Linked DNA regions of Homo sapiens. The protein of the gene in region 5 purifies or fractionates together with the protein of the main gene of each other region. This does not show direct contact. Each region holds a gene or a part of one and is shown on either strand. Other genes may lie near its edges. The genes, in order: NAPA, SCO1, FLII, RNF146, LRPPRC, ARFGEF1 and NFKBIB.

What was found.
Region 1: the proteins of LRPPRC (region 5) and NAPA fractionate together in Homo sapiens (co-fractionation; one large-scale study listed by BioGRID). This does not show direct contact.
Region 2: the proteins of LRPPRC (region 5) and SCO1 purify together in Homo sapiens (affinity purification with mass spectrometry, with the first as the bait; one large-scale study listed by BioGRID). This does not show direct contact.
Region 3: the proteins of LRPPRC (region 5) and FLII fractionate together in Homo sapiens (co-fractionation; one large-scale study listed by BioGRID). This does not show direct contact.
Region 4: the proteins of LRPPRC (region 5) and RNF146 purify together in Homo sapiens (pull-down; one large-scale study listed by IntAct). This does not show direct contact.
Region 6: the proteins of LRPPRC (region 5) and ARFGEF1 fractionate together in Homo sapiens (co-fractionation; one large-scale study listed by BioGRID). This does not show direct contact.
Region 7: the proteins of LRPPRC (region 5) and NFKBIB purify together in Homo sapiens (tandem affinity purification; 2 studies listed by BioGRID and IntAct, with this or other methods). This does not show direct contact.

Annotation. Positions count from the first base shown.
Region 1 is NC_000019.10:47,494,564-47,498,063, reverse strand, and holds part of NAPA (alpha-soluble NSF attachment protein), read left to right. Parts: intron 1-2,467; coding exon 2,468-2,514; intron 2,515-2,919; exon of another isoform or gene 2,920-3,036; intron 3,037-3,500. UniProt on the Homo sapiens protein: Required for vesicular transport between the endoplasmic reticulum and the Golgi apparatus. Together with GNA12 promotes CDH5 localization to plasma membrane.
Region 2 is NC_000017.11:10,680,534-10,684,033, forward strand, and holds part of SCO1 (protein SCO1 homolog, mitochondrial), read right to left. Parts: intron 721-3,500; coding exon 586-720; 3' UTR 1-585. UniProt on the Homo sapiens protein: Copper metallochaperone essential for the maturation of cytochrome c oxidase subunit II (MT-CO2/COX2). Not required for the synthesis of MT-CO2/COX2 but plays a crucial role in stabilizing MT-CO2/COX2 during its subsequent maturation.
Region 3 is NC_000017.11:18,252,239-18,255,738, forward strand, and holds part of FLII (protein flightless-1 homolog), read right to left. Parts: intron 3,026-3,500; coding exon 2,945-3,025; intron 2,617-2,944; coding exon 2,531-2,616; intron 2,445-2,530; coding exon 2,283-2,444; intron 1,945-2,282; coding exon 1,841-1,944; intron 1,482-1,840; coding exon 1,306-1,481; intron 1,221-1,305; coding exon 1,063-1,220; intron 319-1,062; coding exon 234-318; intron 1-233. UniProt on the Homo sapiens protein: Is a regulator of actin polymerization, required for proper myofibril organization and regulation of the length of sarcomeric thin filaments. It also plays a role in the assembly of cardiomyocyte cell adhesion complexes.
Region 4 is NC_000006.12:127,269,864-127,273,363, reverse strand, and holds part of RNF146 (E3 ubiquitin-protein ligase RNF146), read right to left. Parts: intron 1-3,500. UniProt on the Homo sapiens protein: E3 ubiquitin-protein ligase that specifically binds poly-ADP-ribosylated (PARsylated) proteins and mediates their ubiquitination and subsequent degradation. May regulate many important biological processes, such as cell survival and DNA damage response.
Region 5 is NC_000002.12:43,943,990-43,947,489, reverse strand, and holds part of LRPPRC (leucine-rich PPR motif-containing protein, mitochondrial precursor), read left to right. Parts: intron 1-119; coding exon 120-233; intron 234-1,246; coding exon 1,247-1,377; intron 1,378-2,072; coding exon 2,073-2,158; intron 2,159-3,500. UniProt on the Homo sapiens protein: May play a role in RNA metabolism in both nuclei and mitochondria. In the nucleus binds to HNRPA1-associated poly(A) mRNAs and is part of nmRNP complexes at late stages of mRNA maturation which are possibly associated with nuclear mRNA export.
Region 6 is NC_000008.11:67,263,782-67,267,281, reverse strand, and holds part of ARFGEF1 (brefeldin A-inhibited guanine nucleotide-exchange protein 1), read left to right. Parts: intron 1-51; coding exon 52-191; intron 192-297; coding exon 298-406; intron 407-1,074; coding exon 1,075-1,276; intron 1,277-3,500. UniProt on the Homo sapiens protein: Promotes guanine-nucleotide exchange on ARF1 and ARF3. Promotes the activation of ARF1/ARF3 through replacement of GDP with GTP. Involved in vesicular trafficking.
Region 7 is NC_000019.10:38,902,969-38,906,178, forward strand, and holds part of NFKBIB (NF-kappa-B inhibitor beta), read left to right. Parts: intron 1-2,046; coding exon 2,047-2,152; intron 2,153-2,233; coding exon 2,234-2,567; intron 2,568-3,210. UniProt on the Homo sapiens protein: Inhibits NF-kappa-B by complexing with and trapping it in the cytoplasm.

The DNA.
Region 1 (3,500 bases), on a different chromosome or scaffold from region 5:
TGCCACCTTGGTGGCTCTGGGTGGGGAAGGGTGATGCTCATATGTGTTATTGGTTCCTCAGTTACCCAACCATGGCTGCTGCTCAGGGCAGACTCGGGCCAGCGAGGCCTCTTCCCAGGCCTGCCTGATAGTTGGGGGTGGGGGCAGTGTGTGTACCTGGGGCAGAGAAGCGACCTGGCCCCTGCTTGTCCCCCACTTCCTCCCCAGCTGCCATTTACTGGGTTTCTACTGTGTACCAGATGCTTGGCATCTTTTAACCCATTTGATTTCTTTGTGCATTCTGTGATTTGCCCCCATTTTACTAAGGAGGAGATGACCAAGTGTAACCAGGAAGGGCTTCAGAGACGCAGAAGTCAGGTTGGGCGTCGCTGGTAGGAGTGACTGCGGGGATGGGCGGTGGCCTGGGCCATAGCTCCCCAACTTGGGCTGTATTGCTCTGAGCCCCTTTCCAGCCCTCTGTGGGTGGGTACAGGAGGGGCCAGGCCACAGAACTGGGTGTTGCTCTGCCTGTCCGAGTGCACAAGGCCTGGTGACCTGAGATAAGAGTAGCAGTCATGAGTGTGTCAGAAGCTCGTCCAGGAGCCAGCTGTCCCAGGTGTCTGCTGGTGGCCCGCCGCTTTCCAGACATGGAGGGGACTTAACCCCGTGAGTCCATGTTGCTGCCTGGGGGGTAAGCTGTCTCCCTGCTGCTACTGCAAGGACTGTGCCATGCTGACGGCGGGTGCTCCAGAGCCAGTGCCAGCAGGCCCAGGTGGCAGCTGCAGATCTCACTGCTCACTGCGGAGCAGCAGCCTTTGCCGCCTCAGCCCACAGGGTGCCAGGTTGGTGTCCTGGGTGTTCCGGCCAGGAGAGTGAACCAGTGAGCAGCCCGGGGCCTCCATGTGGAGACTGCAGCCAGGTGGGGCGGGGCAAGGCGGGCCTCTCACCTCACTCCAGCTGCTGCTCTCCTCTGCAGCGTGGCCCGGCTTAGCCGTTGCTTCTGGGTCCGCCGATTACAGGATGTATGTGTCTTCAAACTGCCGGATTTAGGTTGTGTTCTCTCCCCTTCCTCCTCATCTGCCCCCTTTTTGCCACCGTTTCCACTGTCTGCTGCCACAGTCTCGGTCTGTCAGCCCTAGAACCTGGACTGAGTGCTGTACCTTCTCTCAGTCCCTTTTAGATCCCCAGAGGTCTTTCTGAATTGGACAAAACCTACAGACCCCACTCCCCAGAGGAGTGCTTATGGACCCCACTGTTTACATGTCAGAAGGAGGGGTTGGACTCCCTGAAAGCCCAGCCACAGACCTGAGACAAAGAGCCTCTGTCCAGATGCCTCCCCACGGAGGGAGTTTGGAGTCCCATCCAGACCGTGAGCCCCTTGAGAGGAGCCCAGCCCCGGCGCTTCTTGGTAGCACCCTCTTCTCAGGCGAACATGGCCTGGGTGACCATGGAGACCCCCACGGTGACCAGGAACTTTCAGATGCCCAGGCTGAAGCTCAGAGCCCATGCCCTGTGGCCTGTCCAAGCTCCCTGCCTTTCCCTCTCCCCAACCCAGGCCTCCCTCCCCACAACACCCCTGTCCTCCTGAGATGTGCTAAAATGGTGTTCTTAAAAAATACCCCCTGAGAGCTCATTTCTGTCTGCTAGAAAATGCCTCCCACTCATGCTTTTCTCTCTCCTCCAAATAACTTGTCAAAAAAAAGCCTTTCCCAAATTTAAAATCTTGCAAGAGATAGTACAACAAAGGTAGCCCAGTTCTTCCTCAGTGCCATCCTGGTGTGTTCAGGTTTTTTGGCAAAACCTTTGAGGAGCTGGTGGGTGGCAGGACTAGGTTAAAGGGACTGAGCAGAGGGCTCCCGACTGCTGAGCTACGAGGAAGAGGGGGCAGTGGAGAGCACACTGAGGGCTCAGTGTTGATGACATCCAGCCTCCTCGTGCCAGAGGTCCAGGTCCTCCTGGTGCAGGAGCAGAAGCTGCTCAGGATCCTGCAGAGATGGTGGCAGAGCCCAGGTAGAACCTGGCACCCTGTTGCCTCCAAGACCACCTCAGATGCTGGTTTGGCCGCCTCCCATGCCTCCTTCCCCTTTGCCAGCAGCTCAGTCCTTCAAGAGCAGGGCCTTGGCAGGTCTGTCTTAAAACACCGTGGGAGTCTGGCCATCATCCTGGCCTAGCACTGCTGTGCCCTGTCCCTGGGGTTGTGGGAAGCTGGTAGCATCCTGGCAGCCCGAGGAGAGAAGGGCTCCCCCAGAAGCATGTGCCCAGCAAGTCACAGTCTGCAGAGTCAGCCCTCTCACCAGATTTCCTGGGGCTCAGGGATTCCGTCCCCTTCTTCCCAGCCCCTTGAGAGTGTGTGGCAGCGCTGGCAGCTCTGAGCGCCTATTGATCTCTCTGCTGGCAGCCAGGTGCGCCTGCGTCCGCCTCCTCTCCTCAGCTTCTGCTGAAACGACTTCACTTTCTCATGTCTCCTCCCACCTCCCTTTCTCTCCAGAGGCCATTAACTGTTTGATGCGAGCAATCGAGATCTACACAGACATGGTAAGGGCTGCTTGCTTGTCCTGACACCCCCGGGTCCCACTGCATTGCCCCAGCCTTGCGTCCCCTCTTTCAGCACCCCCAGCACTGTTCTTATTCTGCGGCCAAACCACTTGGGGAGGGGGAAGTGGGAGCTGGGGGGATTAGGTCACCTGAGCTGGCCTGGGCTGGCTGGGTCTTCACCCAGCTCCCCACCAGCCTGACGGCCCCCTCACTCCACAGGCAGTCATGGTTTTCATTCATAGAACTTAGGTTATTGAGCTGGGCAGGGTGGCTCATGCCTGTAATCCTGGCATGTTGGGAGGCTGAGGTGGGAGGATCTTTTGGGCACAGGAGTTCGAGACCAGCCTGGGCAACATAGCAAGACCTCCTCTCTACAACAAATTAGCCTGGTGTAGTGGCATGCACCTGGGGTCCTAGTTCTTGGGAGGTTGAGGCAGGAAAATCGCTTGAGTCCAGGAAGTTGAGGCTGCAGTGAGCTGTGATCACACCACTGCACTCCAGCGTAGGCGACAAAACAAGACCCTGTCTCAAAACAAAAAAAGAAATTAGGTTACTGGAGAGTGTGTGTCCGGCACTTCCCCTTGCCCAGCCTTCCCGCAAGTGTCACATTTGATAAGCATCTTGCAGCAGGCCACAGGGATAGGCAGAGCCCACAGGAGGCTCAGCACCTGCCCTGCCCCCAGGGCGCGTTGCCAACGACAGATGCAGACCAGATGGGCAGCTGCCAACTGGAGCCAGAGTGAAGGGTCCCACCCAGGCCGGGGCTCCTGTCAGTGCTTTCTCTCTCTCTCTTTTTTTTTTTTTTTTTTTTTTTGAGACAGAGTTTCTCTCTCATCTAGGCTGGAGTTCAGTGGCGTGATCTCCACTCACTGCAACCTCTGCCTCCCAGGTTCAAGCGATTCTCGTGCCCTAGCCTCTCGAGTAGCTGGGATTACAGGCGTGTGCTACCATGCCTGGCTAATTTTTGTATTTTCAGTAGAGATGTG
Region 2 (3,500 bases), on a different chromosome or scaffold from region 5:
CAATAGATTTCCTCTTCATTAGTCAAATCTGATAGTGATATTCATTAATAAGGAAAACTAAAGTTTTCAAGCATCAACTCTGAATGGCAGAGACCCTAATCTGACTGTTATTAGCCACCAAGAACTCAGAAGAGCAAAGAACTCAAGAAGAGGCAAGCAAGAGCACTATGGAAATTATATTCTTTTCTGTGAAATTCAGTCCCACAGCTATTTGAGCAAGGGCCCAAGACGATGGAGAGGCGGCAAAGCTGCTGGGAGGGCCTGTTCGCAGGCAGGAATGCACTGGCTGTGCCTCGCCCCGCCATGTCCTTCCACAGGTGGGCTCTTCACTGGCTTCACTTCAGCTTGATCCTCTGGTCTCCCCACAGCTTCCTGGGAGACTTTGGGTTGTAATCTTTACAGTTCCAAGAATCAATTTTGGTTGAACGCAAGGGTAACATCCCCATCCAAAACAGAAATGTTCTCATGGTATGAAGGCCATTCTGTAGAGTGCACGTATATATGTTTATATTTATATAGGCTCCTATGCGAGACAGTTTCCTTCCTCTTAGCAAGAGAATACTGCATCCAGCAACACTGCTTTGGCTAGCTCTTTTTTCTGTATGGCCTCATGTGTGTGGCAATTGAAGCAGCTATTTCTCCCTTCCTCTTGTTCTGGCCAAAATAATCTAGAAACTCACCATCTGGTCCAATCAAGTACATTATTATTGTGTGATCCACCTGCAGAGAAAAGGGGGGAGAGTGTGACAAAGATTACCAAAATAAGCTGCTTATTTTACTGAATGTATGCTGCAAGATAAGAGAACTTTACATTAATGCTTAAATAACCTTTACAGCATCTATTATTTATGGAATAGGCTTAAGTCTATCATAGCAAATTCCTAACAAAAATTGTCTAAAATCTTTTGTGTCCTAAACATCTGCACTGGTTATTGCTTGTCACATCAGCTAGAACCTGAAATTCTTTTGGTTTAATCCTTAACATATTTACCCACACACTCTGAGAAAAGAATTCACCTTCTAAGAAATAGCTGCTGCAGGCTTTCATAAAGCAGTCAATGTTTGTGGAATAGCAATGCTTGTTGAAAAATACCTTCATTTTTGAGTAAGATATCTCCTCAGACCCTAAACATGTTACAAACAGACATCACATGGAATTAAGTGTTGGTGAAAAACTGCTTTCTTTAGTAAGTTCTTGGGTTTATTCATGTTTTAGAAAGAACTGGTTGTCATTCATTACTGCCAAAATTCTGCTTACCACGCTTTATGAGAAGAAATCAGAAAACTAATCATTAGTTTAAATAATCTATAAATTTGAACAATATTTAGTTTTAATATTAGTAATTCAAACAGAAACAGGAAAAGAAACATTTTTCTCCCCAAGGAAATTTTTGTCTCCTCCACTGAATAATCCTATCTGAAATCAATCCATCACCTGGAAAGCAAATCCTCGGGAGCATAAATGCTGCCCCCCTAACCAGAGAGTCATCGTAAACTCAGCATCCATTTTCCCAGCAAAGTCCTAAAATGGTCCCAGCTCTAACTTTAACTTAGATTAGTCATCAGATTTTTTAGTTAGACACTTCCATAAAATCCAATTTTAAGTGAGATTTGGCACTTAGAGTCCTTGGAATTTATTGCAGGCTTGACTGCTATTTGGCAAGACAAAGAAAGACAGGAATGTGACTACAAATACCAAACTGGAGACACCTCCCAAACATACCCCAGCACGCACTATATGTCTGTGAGGGTATTATTTTTTATACACACATTCTTAAGATAGCAAATGGAAAGAGCACTTGCCTACCCACATAAGGAAAGAATGTACACCAAAAGAGCGCCAACAACTGGATTCCAAGTGCTGTGGGATAGTTCACCGCAGGAGCAAGACGGGGGGCTACGTTTCTCCACATATTTGATACAGAAATCAGAATTAAGTCTCCAGTTCTCTCTTCAAGCCTTACTCTGTAGCTTACATCACTCTTTCTCCCTATTTCTTCCTTTTCTCTATTCTCTGTTAAAAAAAACAAACTACAGTATGTGGGACTTATTTTCTGAGTGTTCTTAATATAAATTACCTTGTAGTACACAACAAAAATATTATTTTATCTGTATCTGTCGAACTTGTCAGAGGTCACTCCTCAATATTCCTTTGGGTTGTGACAGAGCACATTGACATTTATTCTAATACAGAGGTCTACAGAGGTCTTCCAAGTTCTAGTACTTCCTTGTATAGAAAAAGGACACTAGCATTAACTGACAAATTCTTTCACATGTCATCTTAAGCCATGAAACAGGTATTCTCCTCCTCTTCAAATGATATCACAGGCTGGAGAGAGTAAATTATATAATTGGTAAGTGCCAGGCCTAACTTTAAAACCTAGAATCTGTCCAGTTTCAAAGTCCACAAACTTTTATCACCACGTTGCCTCTAGCTCCAATTCTAATGGAGAGCAGCAACTCAGTTTTTCTAGTGTGCAAGTTACGTTTTAGTGTGAATTATTTTTTGAAAAGGTAATATATGCACATAGAAAACGAATATCCAGTTAATGTATACAATGAAAATGTCCCTCCCCCTCTTCACACCCAGAGTGCCTCAGTTCCCCTTAGAGTGAACCAATGCCATCAGTTCCTTCTGTATCCTTCCGAAGAAATTCTCTGCATCTACTATGTGTATATATCCACTACCACTTATTTTTTTTATACACAAGTAACAATATATTCTACAGTACTTGCTTTCTCATTTAACAATATATTGGACATTGTTCTACGTTAGATTATACACAGTAGTTAAAAAATGGTTACTGGATTTTCAGTTTTTTCTCTTTAAAAACAATGCCATAGGGTATATTTATAGGATAAAGTCCAAAAAGTAGAATCTCTTGCATAAAAAGTATATAACTTTAAATGTGAGAAATACTGTTAAACTGCCCTCTGAAGAGGGTGTATGAGTTTAATTCCTATCAACAATGCATGAGTGTGCCTGCTGTTCCAAATTCACTCCTGCAGTTTATTTCCTGCTTTTCCAATTTCGACAATATATTTTCAGATTTTCTGACCACTGCTGAGCCAAGAGAAAAATGTTACCTCATTATACAATTCACATTTCTTTTATTATGAAACTGCACATTTAGGTTTGAAAGCTATTTGTATTCTTTTTTCAAAAGTATTTTCTAACTAATATCTATATAATAATATAGTATTATATATATATAATACAATAATGTGCAGATCCAGCTTTCTATGGAATTCCAAATATTTGGTATACCCAGTTCGATCACTCTGAAGAGTCCACTCAAAAGCCAGAAGCTTGCCTGTTGTTGCTGTCGTTTGGGATTAAGAAAACTTCATTCCATTACATCTCAACATTAACCTTAAAGGTACCCCCTTACTTCCTGCAGGTCCTTAAATGATAACAGAAGTTTCCCAAACCATCCTATGGATGAAAATCTGTGACCTCAAGGGACTGAAGTCATACTAATGAAAAACCTAAGAAGCTG
Region 3 (3,500 bases), on a different chromosome or scaffold from region 5:
GGGCTGAGAGGTCAGGGAACTGGGTTCTCCTCCCACCCACCTCTGGGGCTGGCTGGGGGCTTAAATGAGACTGTGGAATGTACTCTGGATGCAGGGAGGTGGGGCCCACCTTCTCCCCACGGGCACCCTGGCACTGGCCACCTCCCTCAGGAGGCCTCTGCTGGGTCCCCCTTGCTCCAGGGCACACCCCTTGCTTGTCTCTCTTGAGCCCTCTCAAACCCAGCATGCCTGACCTCGATCTCCGTCAGGAAATGGATGGCTTCTGGGAGGGTCACCAGGTGGTTCTTGTTCAGGACAAGTTTCCTCAGCTTTGGGCACCTGTGAAGACAGGGCCAGCCAGGGCCTCAGGCAGGTGACAGACAAGGGGAAGTGGGCAAGAAAACCCCTAGTCCTGGGGAGGGGAGGCAGGTAGGGTCAGAGGAACTGGCGGGGGTCTCCATTCTCTGCCTGAAGGACTTCTCAGAGCCAAGAGACCATGTTACGGGCACTGTGATCTCCAGAAGGGGAGAGAAGCAACACTGCGTTCCCACGTCATGTGGCCTTGTCCCTAACAGTGCCCCCCGAAGGGTGCTCTCAGGGGCTCAAGTTGGGAATGGCTGGCATGGGACTGTGGTCTTCATCCACAAAGGTGAGTTAACTGGGCCGGGCGTGGTGGCTCACACCTGTAATCCCAGCACTTTGGGAGGCTGATCATTTGAGGACAGGCATTCAAGACCAGCCTGGCCAACATGGTGAGACCCCATCTCTACTAAAAATACAAAAAGAGCCGGGCGTGGTAGCGCACGCCTATAATCCCAGCTACTCAGGAGGCTGAGGCAGGAGATTCGCTTGAACCTGGGAGACAGAGGCTGCAGTCAGCCGAGATTGCACCACTACATTCCAGCCCAGGCGACAGAGCGAGACTCTGTCTCAAAAACAAAAAAGAAAAGAAAAGAAAAGAAAAGGTGAATTAACCCATCTTCATTTTGTCTGACTTGCACAGACCACAAGGTGGGCTCTGACTACGATCCCGGGGTTCTCTGTGCTGCAAGTGCCTCTGCTAGCCCCAGCCCTGCCCAGCACCTGCAGAGACTTTCAGGGACCAGCTCCAGGTTGTTGTTGGCAGCCATGAACTCTTCCAGGTTGGTGAGCTTGCCAATGCCTGAGGGCAGCCCGTCAAAGTCCAGCTTGTTGGAATTCAGGTACAGCTTCTTCAGCTTGCTCAGCTTGCAAATGGCTGACTGGAGGGGGAACGGGCAGGGGTGGGAGGTCAGGGCCAGGCTCACGGCCTTCCTCCCATCCCCCTACTGAGGGCCTCAGACGCACGGGCAGTGAGGTGAGCTGATTTCGGGACAGGTTCAGAGTTTCCACGTGCACCCACTGGTCTATGCACAGGGACAGCTCCGTGATCTGGTTGCTGCTGAGGTTGAGGCGGCGCAGGCTGGGGAGGGTGTACAGACACTCGGGCACCCGTGTCAGGTCATTGCAGGACAGATCCACGTCTGGGGTGCAGGGTGGGGTGCATCAGCTGGGGCCCATACACCAGGTGCCAGGGCAGCCAGCCCTAGTGTGAACCCCAGCTCTGCCACCTCTGAGCTGTGTGGCTTAGGCAAGTGACAACTGCTGTGCGCCCAAGTTTCTCCATTTGGACAAACTCCCTCACATGGGGGTTGCGGGGGAGTTTTCTAGGCATAAAGTCAGTGTTAAGGCATCATCATAATCGCAAAAGTCACTGTAACATAACTCCAGCCTTTTCCCTCTGGGTATTGGTCCGAAGAGCAGGGTTCAACCCCTTCCACCCAAGGAAGCAAGAGGGCCCAGAGGGGGCCCGAGCTCAGAGGGGCTCCTGGGGCTGCCTGACCTGCGAGGTTGCTCAGACCCTCCAGGCTGGTGGGCAGGTTGCTCTGGGTGCGCTGGGTGCTCCGCAGGTGCAGGGTCTGCAGGGCCGTCATCGCTGGGAGCTGCCTGCCAGGGTGACGTGAGTGGTCAGGGCCAGGGCCCACCTAGGGAGTGTTAAGGGTGGGGCTTGGCAGGGCAGGACCAAAAGCACAGGGCCCAGAGGGTAGGTGTGAGGTCACATCTGGTTGAAGGGACAAGCCCAAGGGTGGTTGCGGGGTGTGTAAGCGGGAAGACAGGACTGAGAGGTGGACATGATACTTAGGAGGTTGTACACTGAGGGGTGCTGCCTGCACGGAGGGATGGCTGGGCCTAAGGGAGAAGGGTTAGGGCCCTGGGAAGTGAAGGGGCCCGGCCAGACTCCTCAGGGTGGCTTCTGCAGGAGTGCGGTCCGAGGGGGCGCCCACCGGAGCTGTGCATGCAGCAGGGGGTTTCCATTGAGCACGAGCGTCTGCAGGTGCACCAGGCGGCGCATCTGCGGGGGCAGGCTCTCCAGGCGGTTCTCGCTGAGGTCCAGGTATAGTAGGTCAGTGAGGTTGATGAAGAGCTGGTTGGGGATGGTGTCGATGCTACGGGTGGGGAGCAGGAGCCACCTGAGTCAGCACCAGCCACCCCACAGGGCCCACCTGCCCCCTGCCCCCCACTGGCCTGGCACCTGTTGTGGCTGAGGTTCAGCACCAGCATGTTCTTGGCGTTCTCCAGCTCCCGCGGGCACTCTGTCAGCTGGTTGTGGCTCAAGTCCTGGGTAGAAGGGGCAAGACCCAGGTCAGGGGAGTCTCCTCCCCACCAGGCGTCTGCCAAGCTTGGGGATCAGGCAGGGCACTGAGTTGGGTGTGGGGGTAGATGAGGGGGCTTCAGGGCCAAAGGGAGACAGCCAGGGACTTGGGAGGAAGAGTGCCTGTGTTAGGGATCTGACTCCAAAAGTGACCTCAGGCAAGGTATTATCCACTCCAAGACTCAGTTTTCCCATCTGCAAAATGGGATAACAATGGCCCCAGGGACTTTTATAGTGAGTGGGGATTGAATGGTCCGGCTAGCACAGGGGCCAGGTGAGTGGGTAGCCACTGACCAGGACTGAGAGATCATCTAGCTTGAAGATGTCATCGGGGACTCCGGAATTCTTCAGACTGTTGGCTCGGGCCACGATGGCCTGGGAATAAACCATAAGAGTCTATAATTCCTGGCTTCCACTCTCAGGAAGGAACAGAGTCTAGAGAGGGACACCTCCTCAGGCAGCTCACCAGAGGCCAGGCCTGAGGACTCTCTCACCTCTGGCCTTTGATCAAATAGCTCCCTCTCCTGGAGCGCTCTTCCTAGCCTCCCAGTGAGCTCCTATTCATGCCTCAAAGCCCAGCTCAAATGTGCCCCGGAGCCCCAGCACAGGGCCCTCAGGGAACCTTTTCTGTTCAAACCATTTCTCTTCTTCTTAATTCCAGAAGGTGAGATAGGGGTAAGGTCTGAGTCAGGGTTTTCAGAACAGAGGGAGAGAAGTGGACCACAGAGAAATCAGAATCTGGATGGAGAGGAAGTCTGCTTTCTCTCCCTAACTTAAGACTGACACCTCCTCATACCTTACAGACATGCAGAAAGCTTGAGCATGAGGGAACAGGGCCAGAGAATGGTGT
Region 4 (3,500 bases), on a different chromosome or scaffold from region 5:
GTGCCACTTGAGGTGGTACAAGAAATTTAAACAAATGTAAAGATGCAGTATGAATCATAGCTGTATAAAATTAATTGTAGTACATACTGTAATAATTTCCTGTTGCTATTATGAATTTCCACTTAAAATGCTGTGGACACTAATCATCTCTGCATGTATTGGAGTAAAATGTAATCTCTTGTTCTTGTGTATTTTTCATCATGTTTAGTACAATACCATAAACCTTGAATAACACCATGGGACCCATGTGAAGTGCCACTAGTGATGCTAGAAGTGCTCCCAAGAAGCCAAGAAGTCATGCCATTACAAGAAGTTAAATTACCTGGTACACACCCTAGATGGGTCTGCAGCTGCAGTTACCCATCATTTCAGACAGACACCTTATAAACAGGTAACATAAACACAGTATCGGTAAATGCAGTACTGTAAATGTATTTTTTCTTCCTTAGGAATTTATTTTCCTTTAGCTTATTGTAAGAATATAGTATGTAATGCATATAACAAACAACGTGTTAACTGACTTTACAGTAGGCTATTAGTAGTTAAATTTTGGGGAAGTCAAAACTTATACTCAGATTTTCAATTGTGCAAGGGGTTGGCACCCTTAACCCCATGTTGCTCAAGGGTCAATTGTACTGCCCTCTTATTGTCTTTGAGCATTCTTTTATTTCACCTCTCATTATGCATTATCTTTCAAAAATACATTTGCGTAGAACAACACAACCAGGTTCTTCTTGGCTGAGATTTAGCCATCTTATGCAACCAATAAAAGTGACTCCAGATAAAAGCAGACAAAAAACTTAACAGATGTAAACAGGAATCCTACAGCAGCCCTAAGAGTCCACAGTTCATATAATTTTAGTAAATCTTGCATGCTTTGGTGACTTTTTCAATTTCTATATCCTCATGAATAATTTTTTCAAAGTGCAGACTAACTGGATAAATGCTGGGGAAGGAAAATGAATTAAAACTAACATAATGCTCTAGATCCTAGCTATACAAACAAACTGGGATTCCCAACTAGTACTATCAGCACTACCTGGGAGCTCTTCACAAATGAAAATCCTAAGTGCCACCCTAGACCTACAGAACCAGATCTCCAAGTGATTCACATATATTAGTTAGTGAAACACTACCAAATCCATATGTCACTGAATCCTCAAAACAACCCTGTGAAATATGACTATACCTATTTCACAAATGAGGAAGCCTAAGCTCAGGAAGTTAAATGACTTACCCAAAGTCAAAGCCATCAATATTGGGAGATGCGATTCAAATTCAAATTTACCTTTAAAAATGTCTTTCTACAATGTATTGTCTCTCACAGAAAAGGTCACGTATTATCTAATAGAAATATGATGCAAGCCACGTATGCAATTTCAAATTTTCTATTAGCCACATTAATAATAAAAAGAGGCAGGGCATGGTGCCTCACATCTGTAATCCTAGCACTTTGTGGGTAGTGACACAGGAGGATGGCTTGAGCCTAGGAGTTATAGACCAGCCTGGGCAAGATGGTGAGACCCCCATTTCTACAAAAATAATAATAGAAAGAAACAGGTAAAATTAATTTCAATAATATATTTTATTTAATCCAACGTTTCTACATTACTGCTTCAGTATGTTTCAATATAAATTGTTAATGTAATATTTTATGTTCTTGGGTAAGCGTATGCATACTTCTTTGAAATCCAGTGTGTATTTTACACTTACAGCACAACTTAATTCAGACTGGATACATGTCAAGTGCTCAATAACTCCATGTGGCTAGTGGCTACTTTACTGGGCAATGCTGGTCTAGAATGTCTTGCATATTAATCTTGTTAAATACAAAACTGACAAGTCACTACAGGAATTGTTTAATAGAGACAATGAATTCAATGTTAATTTACCTAGACTTTTGCCGAAGACACATTAAAAAAGAAAACTGCATATTCTGTTATAATCAAAGTTAATGGGTTTAGGTAGCCCCAATTCTGCCAAACTGACCCATCACCTATTAACTCTCAGAATTTATACAGTTGACCCTTGAACAATGTGAGGAGTTAAGAATGTCTACACCCTGCGCAGTCAAAATTCCATGTAAACTTTTGAGTTTCCAAAAACTTAACTACTAATAGTCTACTATTGCCTGGAAGCTTTACTGATAACATAAACAGTGGATTAATATATGTTTTGTATGTTGTATTATATATTGTTTTCTTGCAATAAACTAAAAAAAAGAAAACATTATTTAAAAAATCGTAAGGAGGCCAGGTGCGGTGGCTCACGCCTGTAATCTTAGCACTTTGGGAAGCTGAGGCAGGAAGATCATGAGGTCAAGAGATCAATACCATCCTGGCCAACATGGTGAAACCCCGTCTCTACTAAAAATACAAAAATTAGCTGGGCATGGTGGCGCACACCTGTAGTCCCAGCTAATTGGGAGGCTGAGGCAGGAGAATCTCTTGAATCTGGGAGGTGGAGGTTGCAGTGAGCCAAGATCGCACCACTGCACTCCAGCCTAATGACAGAGCAAGACTCCATCTCAAAAAAAAAAAAAATCATAAGGAAGAAAAATATGTTTACATTCATTAAGTAGAAATGGATCATCATAAAGGCCTTCATCTTTTTCAGGAGGACGAGAAAGAAACATTGGTTTTGCTCTCTCAGGGGTGGCAGGGGCAGAAAAAAAAAGTATTGTATAAGTGGAACTACACGGTTCAAACCTTTGTTCAATGGTCAACTATAATTTCAACTGGGCACAAAATAGGGCATACATGTAATACTTATAACAATCATGTGAAGAAGCCCTCAGAAAACTCCCACATTATTTGAAACCAAAGTTTTTTTAAAGTTGGAGGAGAAGGGATGCTTTTATTTTAACCAATAGGGGGATGTAAAACAGAACAGTATGATTTCAACTACAGGCCAGAATTAATTTGCCAAACATAAATAACTCAAACATACATAATTCCTACTGGAATGAATGACCTGTAAATTTTACACCAAACTTAATATGATGATGTATGAAGAAGGTAACATAAAAAAAAGAAAAAGTCTAAAACCAAATTAGATACTTTGCCCCTAACAATTCTGGAGGAAAAAAACAGTGACAGGTAAAACTTAAAAATACACAAAGGGGTTTAGGGATTATCAATGAATTTAAATCTTGACCCATTCAAATAAGTGAAAAATAAATACAACTAAAAATGAAGTAATATTGTACCATTTATAATTTGTAACAACTCAAAATACTCATACTCCCACTTTTCAAGTCAGTCACAAGATCAAAGTCAAGAGTTTTTTTCAGGTAATAGATTCAAGCAAGCGATTATCTTTAATCAAAGAAAAAGATGAGCATATAACATCAATATAAATACATATAAAAACAAAGACAAATATCAATTATAAATATTTGAAGACTTACTGTATTTTTCTAATTATTAACAGCTAATGTTTAATAAGATTTTTGCCATTTATTCAAAATACACAAAACAGTAAATGTTCTACATGAAATC
Region 5 (3,500 bases):
ATAGCATTTATGACATTTAGGAAGGTAGAAAGGAAAGTCAGTTTAAAGGGAAGAGTGACAAAAGGCATACTATATTTCCTTTTTCAGGAAATTTTTCTTTTCTTTTTTCTTTTCTGTAGACTGTGCAACTTACATCATCTGAATTGGAGTCCACACTTGAAACACTAAAAGCTGAAAATCAACCTATAAGAGATGTCCTAAAGCAACTCATATTAGTGCTTTGTTCAGAAGAGGTAACATTTGTTTTAATATTTAAATATTATTAAGGCAAAAAATTCTTGGTAACAATAAGAAAAACCAAATATAATATTTATGATTTTTACAATTGATCGTTATATGTCAGGCTTGTAAAGAATGCAATTAAATGAAAGGTTAACTAATTTCAGCTACACCTTGAATGGCATGTTTTCTGGTTGCTGTAGTTTGTTTACGATAATCTGCAAAGTGAATGATAGTAACAGCTGTGATAGGTTTATCATACATGCCAAATGTCCTTTCAAGCCATGGCTCCGGTCTCTTATATCTAGATTGTCAAGCAACTGATACACGCAGTAGTCATTTGCAAGTCAAATATTACTAGGTTGTTAATGCAGGGATTGAAATTCCATTTTCCTGCTGGAAAAAAGCTCTTTCTGAGATAAAGGGTCCCTTGCCTTTTTTCAGCGGGCATCCAGCTGTACTTTGTGTTCATTTTAGTGTATGTCTGCAATTTGTGGGATATCACTAGACTATTTTTCACTTTCTAGTTCAATATAATTGAGCCATAAACTTGTAGTTTTAGGGAAAAAATATCATGACTAACTTTATGATTATAATCTGCTACTGTTAAATTCTAAAATATTTCTTCATATTACTTGGATACTAAACTAGACTGAGAAACTTTTCAATGATACATATTTCTGCATCCTGAAATTAGACTGTGATTAGGATTTGATTTGGGAATTACTTAATCTGGAAGTCTTTTTTAAATAATACCATACACAAAGCCTAAAACATCAAATTTGGCATAAATAATGGCCTATTTTATATTACAGATAACACATCTTTTAACCCCTACACGTGTAAGACTTGCCCACTTCTTAGAGGTGAATAAAAATATCAAGGGGCAGAGTCAGGTTGTTAACATGAAACCATTTATTTTTAAAGTACTATTAACTTTTTCTAAACTCTGAACAGTAAAGCTAAAAATGTGACATTTTTACCTTCACACTGATTTCTTCTTTTTCACATCTATGCTGTATTTTAGAATATGCAAAAAGCCCTTGAATTGAAAGCAAAATATGAATCCGACATGGTTACTGGTGGCTATGCAGCTTTAATAAATTTATGCTGTCGACATGATAAAGTAGAAGATGCCTTGAACTTGAAAGAAGAATTGTGAGTACCCTGGCACTGAAACAAGTTGTCAACATTTATTCTGCTCTACAGACCTTGATAGATTATCTAGATGGAATATTACTCTCTTATATAATGTCATTTTTAAAAATTCTTTTGTTGTCAGTGTTTTTGAAATTTCGTATTATACGGCTCTTTAATTAATTGTGGCTTATGTTCAGCAAGGTGTCTTTGTTTAAGTATGATAAGACATTCTAGTCCTTAGAACCAAAGGTTTTTTTCCATTGATTATATATCATCACAACAGTGGTGATGGTGGTAACTGTTTTAAGAGGCTTGATAACATTTCCCTTTCAATATTGTAGTGTAAATAAAATTCTATCCATTTCTCAGGTACCTTTGGCTTCCTATCCTGTTAGATTTTTCAAGTAAAAATGTCAAGTATTCGTGATGAAGGTTAGAATCACTTAAAGCCAAAGAGTTTCTTCATAAGTATCCTTTGCAGATGGAGTGATGCAATATATATGTAGTGTTGGGCTTTTACTTCACTAGTCACTTTGAATATAATTTCGTGTGAACTTGTATATGGCTTCAAAAAGAAATCCTAACTGAAGCGTAGAGGCCAACATTAGTTCAGGTCTTCTGATGAGCTTTTGAAAAGTGATTAAATGGATGTTGCTGTTCTTTTAGCAGTTAATTGACTTTTAAAACAATATAAATGTGGCTTTAATTTTTAGTGACCGCTTAGATTCATCTGCTGTCCTTGACACCGGCAAGTATGTAGGCCTTGTAAGAGTATTGGCAAAGCATGGCAAGCTCCAAGGTAAGCCTCAGCACATAAAGGAAATATGTGATGCAAGTATCTTGCCACTGGAATAACATGTGAATTGATATTAATGGATATCATGTCCTGCAAAGTGCTTGAACACTTTGCATAGAAATTTGCATGTGAATCCAACCAGAGCTACATGGACAGTGTAGGCCATTAGTTTTAATGGATTGGCAAGCTTGTCATTTACATTTGCACAGCTCAGTGCTTTTTGCATTTCTGCAGCTAGTTTTTATTAGCATTGCTGTTTGGATTGAGTTTGAAGATCATGACTTATGGCACAATTTGCTTATGTGCCTGCACTAATGGCTTTGTTTTTGCTTAAGAAGGTCTGAAGGCTGAACGTAAAACCTATAAACGTAAAACCTATAAACATAACCTAATATATGCGCCTGAATTTTGCAGTAGTCTTTGCCTTACTTTTTAATAACATTAACAAAATATATACTTTAAAGTTTTTATTTTAATTAAGGTTTTTATTTAATGGTTCATGGAAAAAGCATAGCTGATTACACAGCTGATTTGCATACTCAAATTTTCTCGTTGAGATAATGCTAAGCCTAATAAAATTAATTACACTTGATAATACATTCATACTATTTTCTTGTTTCTTAACTTTCTGATTTGGCTTTATTTTGAAATTTCCTTTTTAGCCTTCCTCTTTTCCTTTGATTTTCAGAAAAGATTGTTTTAATTTTATTATAGGGAAAAATGTATGGAGAAAATCATTTATTAGAACATTGAATGTTTTCCTAGGACGCCTTTCTAACTCTTTCTAAGGATTAGCCTATTTTTTTAAAATCACTTTTTGTAAAGTGGTCAAAACATTTTGTCTGTGTAATAATTAAGAACAACATTATAAAAATGCACTTATTCCATATCCTAAAATGTTTGTTTCTGCCTTCCTAATGAAGCTTAATGAATCTAATGTATTAACATGCAGTCTTTTGGAAAGCTTTCATTGGCTCTGCTTGGCTAATTAGTATCGACATAGCAAACAGGCCCTATCGGTATCAGACCATTAGTCTGGCTGTATATACAGTGTAAACACATCTTTATTATCTGGCCTCCTGACAAGCCATCTGCTGAAGAAACAATGGTGTGATTTAGCAGATGTTAGCTCTGAACGATAAAAGCATCCATTTAGGAGGATCTTACAGCTATAGGGCAGACCATACAGGGTTATGTGGTACAGAGTGGGCACATAGTCCCTATCTATAATTTGTAGTCAAAGTTGCAGGGAAATGATAAAACCATGCTATTGTGGATTTATAATTGTAGTCTCGTTTAGAAATGCAAGTAGTAATTAACTTGAAATCGGCATTATACACTAGAA
Region 6 (3,500 bases), on a different chromosome or scaffold from region 5:
GTACTCATATCCTAGATGTACTTTGTTGAAATTAATGTTATATTGTTACAGATGCTCAGAGTGTAGTGGATATTTATGTAAACTATGACTGTGACTTAAATGCAGCCAATATATTTGAAAGACTAGTAAATGATCTATCAAAAATTGCTCAAGGAAGGGGCAGTCAAGAACTTGGTATGAGTAATGTTCAGGTAAGAACTATAAAAACATTTTCAAATTTAAACTTTACCAGGAAAGAGTCATGTGTTTTCCTTAAAAGACCTTTAAAAAAAATTTTGTTTTTGAATTACTTTGTAGGAATTGAGCCTGAGGAAAAAAGGTTTAGAATGCTTAGTGTCGATTTTGAAGTGTATGGTTGAATGGAGTAAGGATCAGTATGTGAATCCCAACTCCCAGACAACTCTTGGTAAGGTGATATTTTGAGCTGTAATTCTTTGTCATTTTAAGTGAATAATACTTTGGAGGATAGTTGCAGCTGCTGTTAAACCAATTTCATGACATATTTATTCATTTAACTGATGAGGAAACATTCTCTGTGAGTTAAATGTCTAGCTTTAAAATTGTGAGATTTTTAACTTAGTTATCCAAACTATTTTTTTCTAAATCTTCTTAGAAATATTTTGATTATGTAAAATGAAGCATATTTATGCAACTTTCTTGTATTATAATTATAGAGGAAACATATAAAAGGCAGTATGTTTTAAGAAGGTTGAATTGTTCATCTGTGTTTGATGTTTACCCTCACTCAGAGAAAAACTCATAGCTGCAGGGCTACACTGGTATTATCGAAAACAATTCCTCATGAGGAGTGAGCTGAGAGCAGAAATCCAGTGGATACTCAGCACTGCAACTGCAAAAAGAACTCCTCCTAATGGTGCAGACTATACACGTACAAATTACAGTGTGTTTTAATATCAAAGTATGTTGTTTACTATGTTACCTAATAGTTATTTTGTATTAAATAGATATCTAAGCAACATTGAAACGCCTTGCCTTATTCAAGAATTTGTTTGCCCTTACACTTTTTTTTTTCTTTGATAGAATAATGTACTCTATCAATTTTTCTTCTTTCAGGTCAGGAAAAACCCTCAGAGCAAGAGATGAGTGAAATCAAACACCCTGAGACAATAAACAGATACGGAAGTTTAAATTCCCTGGAGTCAACATCATCATCAGGAATAGGCAGCTACAGTACACAGATGTCTGGCACTGATAATCCAGAACAATTTGAGGTCCTAAAGCAACAAAAAGAAATAATAGAACAAGGGATAGATTTGTAAGTGTCATAGCTTAAGGAGAAATGTTATTGAATATCTCTCTGCCAGTATAGTGCCACCCCTGCCGTGGGTTTATCACCTTATAATGAGTAAAATGGAGGATAGTTCTCATGGATCTAATTCACGAGGCTCCTATTCAGCCCCCCTTGTTCATTGCAGTCTAGCCCAACTAGATTCCTGTAATGCCCAACCACTCTTGTCATATAAATTAATTTGTCACCATATTATAAGTGCTGTTGATGGGTATCATCTGTGCAATTTTGCACTGTTTAGCTCATGACATCCCCCCATTATATTTTCTAATCATGTGACAACTCAAAACATTTAAAATATGAAACTTCTAATAGCTATCAGTACTCCTTTATAGGTCTTACATTTTTTCCAGCTGGCTTACAAATGTACTATTCTTGTTATTGATTTCATTTTTATATGTTGATGAGGTGATCACCTCTCTTCCAGCCTGGCTAGTGTACCGGATCCTAATCTTGTGAAGTCAGTTTTCCCACTAAGCTTTGTGATACCTGCCTGCTCCTGGACTATTTCCTTTGTGAATGTCACCATGCTGCCTTCCTTTCTCTTGTTGCCCATCTCTTTTTTTCAAAGAGATGCCATAAGGAAAAATGAAATTGTTTGCCGTCTCCATGAATCTAACTATTATAAACTTAAAAATTCCCCTGTGTGCTTACTTGGTTTGCTACTTCTGTAAAGCATTTCTTCCTGATACTTAAGCAGTGCCTTTTAGTGAATGTTCAGGTGTCTTTTTTCTCCAGTGTTAATATGAAAAACAGTTCAACAAAAATGTACACATATTCTATTTTAAAATTACAAAATCTTACCAAATTGCCTCAGGAAATAGCTGTCACTACTGCATTAATTCTAATTGTTCAGTCAATATTTATTAAAGTCTCATCTTTCCAGATATTATGCAAGATCCTGGGGAAACTAGATACATGGAAAAGCCCTTCCTTCTGAGAGGCTCTTGGTCTAGTGTGTGTAAACAAATATGCATATTGAAATTCTGCTGGTCACCCAGTAAACACATATTTGGTACTTGGGACTATTGCCAAGCACCATGAAGGCATTGGTCCTTGTATTCAAGATTGCATTCTAAACATGAGCAATTTTTAAAAATAGTACTGTGTAAATGTTTATAAAAGAGTGTCGTACAGAGTAAGTACTGCCAAGGTACTTATTTTGAAGTACTTGAGAAATGAGAAGGAGTAGTCAGAGGGCTTCGAAGTGGAAGTCTCCCAGTCCTTCTCTCAGCAGCTAGACTTGCTTTCTACTTAATACAGCCATTGATGAGAATGCTTTCATGGAACTGTATTCCTAGTATACTTGTCTACAACTGTTTCATGACACCAGTCTATCCTGTTTCTCTCCTACCTTTTTGACTATGCCGTCTCAGTCTTGTGGGCTGTTTTTTCTTTCTTCCTGCGTGCATCTTAGCATTGCCAGCGTTCTGTTCCTCAGCCCTTTTCCAACATCAGCCCCTTAGTTCTCCTACCCAAAACAAAAGACAAATAGAGAAGCCTGTTATTTTTGTATTTCTTATTTATGGTAGTAACCCCAGCATGCTACTAAATTTATAAGCTAAAATCCTGGGAGTTAGCTTAGATTTTCCCCTCAAAGGATTAGATTCTCGAATCTAATCTGTCACTAAGACTTGTTGATTATACTTCCTAATATCCCTGCAATCTGTACTCTTTTCTCGATCTCCCACCACTATTCTTGCAAATCAAATCATGATTATTTATTTCCTCAACTAGTATAATCTTTCAATTGGCTTACCTTTTTCTTTGGTTTTGTTCATTCTTCAGTCTTTTCCCATGCTTAACTAGAGTAACCTTTCTTGAATGAAAGTCTATTTTTTCCCTCTCTTAGAGAATAAAACCAAAGCTGCTTTGAAGGTATGATAATACCTTCATGATTTGGATCTGCTGGACTCTAAGCTTCATTTCCTGCCACTTTTCTGTCTCACCTCACTTTCCAACAATGCAGAACTATTTATTATATAATACTGTCTTGTGCTTTTGTGTTTTAGTATGGCTTCTTCCTCTCTTGCATGTTTTTTCTTATTGTTTATAAAAGATATAATTGTTCTTCAAAATAGTTCCAGAGTCACCTTTCCCAGGAAATATATTATGACCATCTAAGTTAGTTACTTCTACTGTGTTATTTTCTTACCTTGTGAATACATCTATTTGTCACAGTTTTAGTATT
Region 7 (3,210 bases), on a different chromosome or scaffold from region 5:
AGAGGCAGGAGAATCGCTTGAACCCGGGAGGCGGAGGTTGCAGTGAGCTGAGATCACGCCACTGCACTCCAGCCTGGGCAGCAGAACGAGACTCCATCTCAAAAAAACAAAACAAACAAACAAAAAAAGAAAAAGAAAAACAAAACCAAAAAGAGAAACCATATGACCTACAAAGACTAAAATAGTTATCTGGCTCCTTACAGAAAAAGTTTGCTGACTCCTGCTGTAGGGTTGATAGTTTACAACTTTAGGTTATCATGGGCTACCTTAAAGTGATATTATGCCATTTCACATAGAGTAAAAGAAATTTATTTTATTTTATTATTATTATTTGAGACGGAGTCTCACTCTGTTGCCCAGGCTGGAGTGCAGTGGCACGATCTCAGCTCACTGCAACCTCCATTTCTCAGGTTCAAATGATTGTCCTGCCTCAGCCTCCTGTGTAGGTGGGATTACAGGCGCATGCCACCATGCCTGGCTAAATTTTTTTTGTATTTTTTGTAGAGACAGGGTCTCATCGTGTTGGCCAGGTTGGTCTCAAACTCCTGACCTCAAGTGATCTGCCCGCCTTGGCCTCCCAAAGTGCCAGGATTACAGGTGTGGGCCACCGTGCCCAGCATAATGAACTGTTTTAATATTCTTGTTTGCAAATTCTAACATCTCTGTCATTTCTGGGTCAGTTTCAATTCACTGATGGTTCCTATTATGGATCATGTTTTCCTGCTTCTTTACATGCCTGATAATCTTTGGTTAGGTGCCAGACATTGTGAATTTTGCCTTGTTAGTCTGGAGAATTCTGTATTCCTATAAATATTCTTGAGGCCGGGCGCCGTGGCTCACACCTGTAATCCCAGCACTTTGGGAGGCCAAGGCGGGTGGATCACGAGGTCAGGAGTTCAAGATCAGCCTGGCCAACATGGTGAAACCCTGTCTGTACTAAAAACTGCAAAAATTAGCCAGGTGTGGTGGCACGCACCTGTGGTTCCGGCTACTCGGGAGGCTGAGGCAGAAGAATCGCTTGAACCCAGGAGGTGGAGGTTGCAGTGAGCCACGATCGTGTCACTGCGCTCCAGCCTGGGCGACAGGGCAAGACTCTCTCTCAAAAAATAAAAATTAAAATAAATAAATAAATAAATAAATAAATAAATATTCTTGAATATTATTCTGGGATGGAGTTAAATTACTCGGAAGTAGTTTGAGTCTTTCCAGTTTTGCTTTTATGATTTGTTAGGTGGGTGTTGAGCAGTGCCCCATCTACAGTTAATTATTCCCCACTATTGAGGCAAGACCTTCCTGAGTATCCCACCCGATAGCCTGTGATGATGTTTTTCCAGCCTGGCTGGTGGGAACACTCACTATTCCTGGCCCTGTGTGAGTAACGAGCACTTTTCTGAAATCCTTTTGGATGGTTTTCCCATCCCCACAGACTCACAGGCATGGCTGATCCGTATTCTCCGGAATACACAAGAGAACCTCCTGCAGTTCCCCAGCAATCTCTCCTTTGGCAACTCTGTTTTGTACTCTGTCCTGTGACTCTAGCCACGCTGGCCTCCACAGACTCTTCCTCCATATCCATCTCCTGACCTCAGACAACCTGATGCGCTCTGCTTGGATTCCCCTCTCTGCACCGTGGCTTTGAAACTCTCTCAAGACAATAAGCTGTGGCAGTCAAGTGTGGGGCCCACCTCGTGTTTCCTGTCTTTCAGGGGTCACTGTGATTCATTGCACGATGTCCAGTGTCTTCAACACTGTTGCTTCATATACCGTATTTCGTCTGACTCTTGTTTGTTTGTTTGTTTGTTTCACGTGGGAGTGAATTCTGGTCCATGTTACTTCATTTTGGGCAGAAGTGGAAATCCCACTGAATAAACATTGATTCCACGAATTTGCTGATGAAACTCTGACCTCTGACCTCCCAGATAGCTGACAGGGGGTTCCAGAACTGTGGTCACAAGGCCTAGCATACAGTAGGCGCCCCATGTTTGTTCAATGAAGGAATGCAAGAGGACTTGAACTTTGCCCTCTCACCCCGGTCTTTGTCCCCAGGGCACTGCACTTGGCTGTGATTCATCAGCATGAACCCTTCCTGGATTTTCTTCTAGGCTTCTCGGCCGGCACTGAGTACATGGACCTGCAGAATGACCTAGGCCAGGTGAGCCACGAGGGATGGTGTAGGGCTTGGGGTCCAGGGTTCCCAGTGTGACTCCCTACCGCCTGTCCTCTGCTTCTGCAGACAGCCCTGCACCTGGCAGCCATCCTGGGGGAGACATCCACGGTGGAGAAGCTGTACGCAGCAGGCGCCGGGCTGTGTGTGGCGGAGCGTAGGGGCCACACGGCGCTGCACCTGGCCTGCCGTGTGGGGGCACACGCCTGTGCCCGTGCCCTGCTTCAGCCCCGCCCCCGGCGCCCCAGGGAAGCCCCCGACACCTACCTCGCTCAGGGCCCTGACCGTACTCCCGACACCAACCATACCCCTGTCGCCTTGTACCCCGATTCCGACTTGGAGAAGGAAGAAGAGGAGAGTGAGGAGGACTGGAAGCTGCAGCTGGAGGCTGAAAACTACGAGGGTGAGGGTCGTCACCAGGGAAGGACTCAGCTCCTGGGCTAGGCGAGAGCACCTGGCCCTGGGCTCAGCTTCCCTGATTTGAGACTGAGCTCCTTGGGAAATCATGCCTAGGCTTCAGGAGCCCACACATCGGGACCAGGGACCTCCACTCAGGGCCCAGATGATTGAGAATTGGATATGTAGGACCCAGGACCCCCACCTGGAGGCCCCAGGTCACTTGGGATGCAGACCTGTCACCCACAGACCCAGAGCTGCCAGGATCCAGTTGTCGGGCCCCCGGGCTCCCCACCTGCAGAGTGTATTGCAGACCCCTACCCTACCCAGGACCGGGGAATGCAGAGCTCAGGCCCTCTGTGAAACTCTGGCACCCCAGGCTCCCAGCAATGGGCAGCAGGGTTCAGAGACAGCCCTCCTCAGCCTCATGGGAAGAAGGGCTCATCTGCCCACAGCCCTGACATCCAAGTTTCTGCTCCCCTGCCTATAAGCCCAGCCACCTGAGACCAGACCCCTCCTCAGATGGACTGACGTCATTCAGGACCCAGTGTTCAGGGCCTGCCTCTCGCCCCCAGGTCACAGGCTTTTCAGCTACTTGGTACCTTTTTTTTTTTTTTTTTTTTTTTTGAGACAGTCTCACTCTGTTGCCA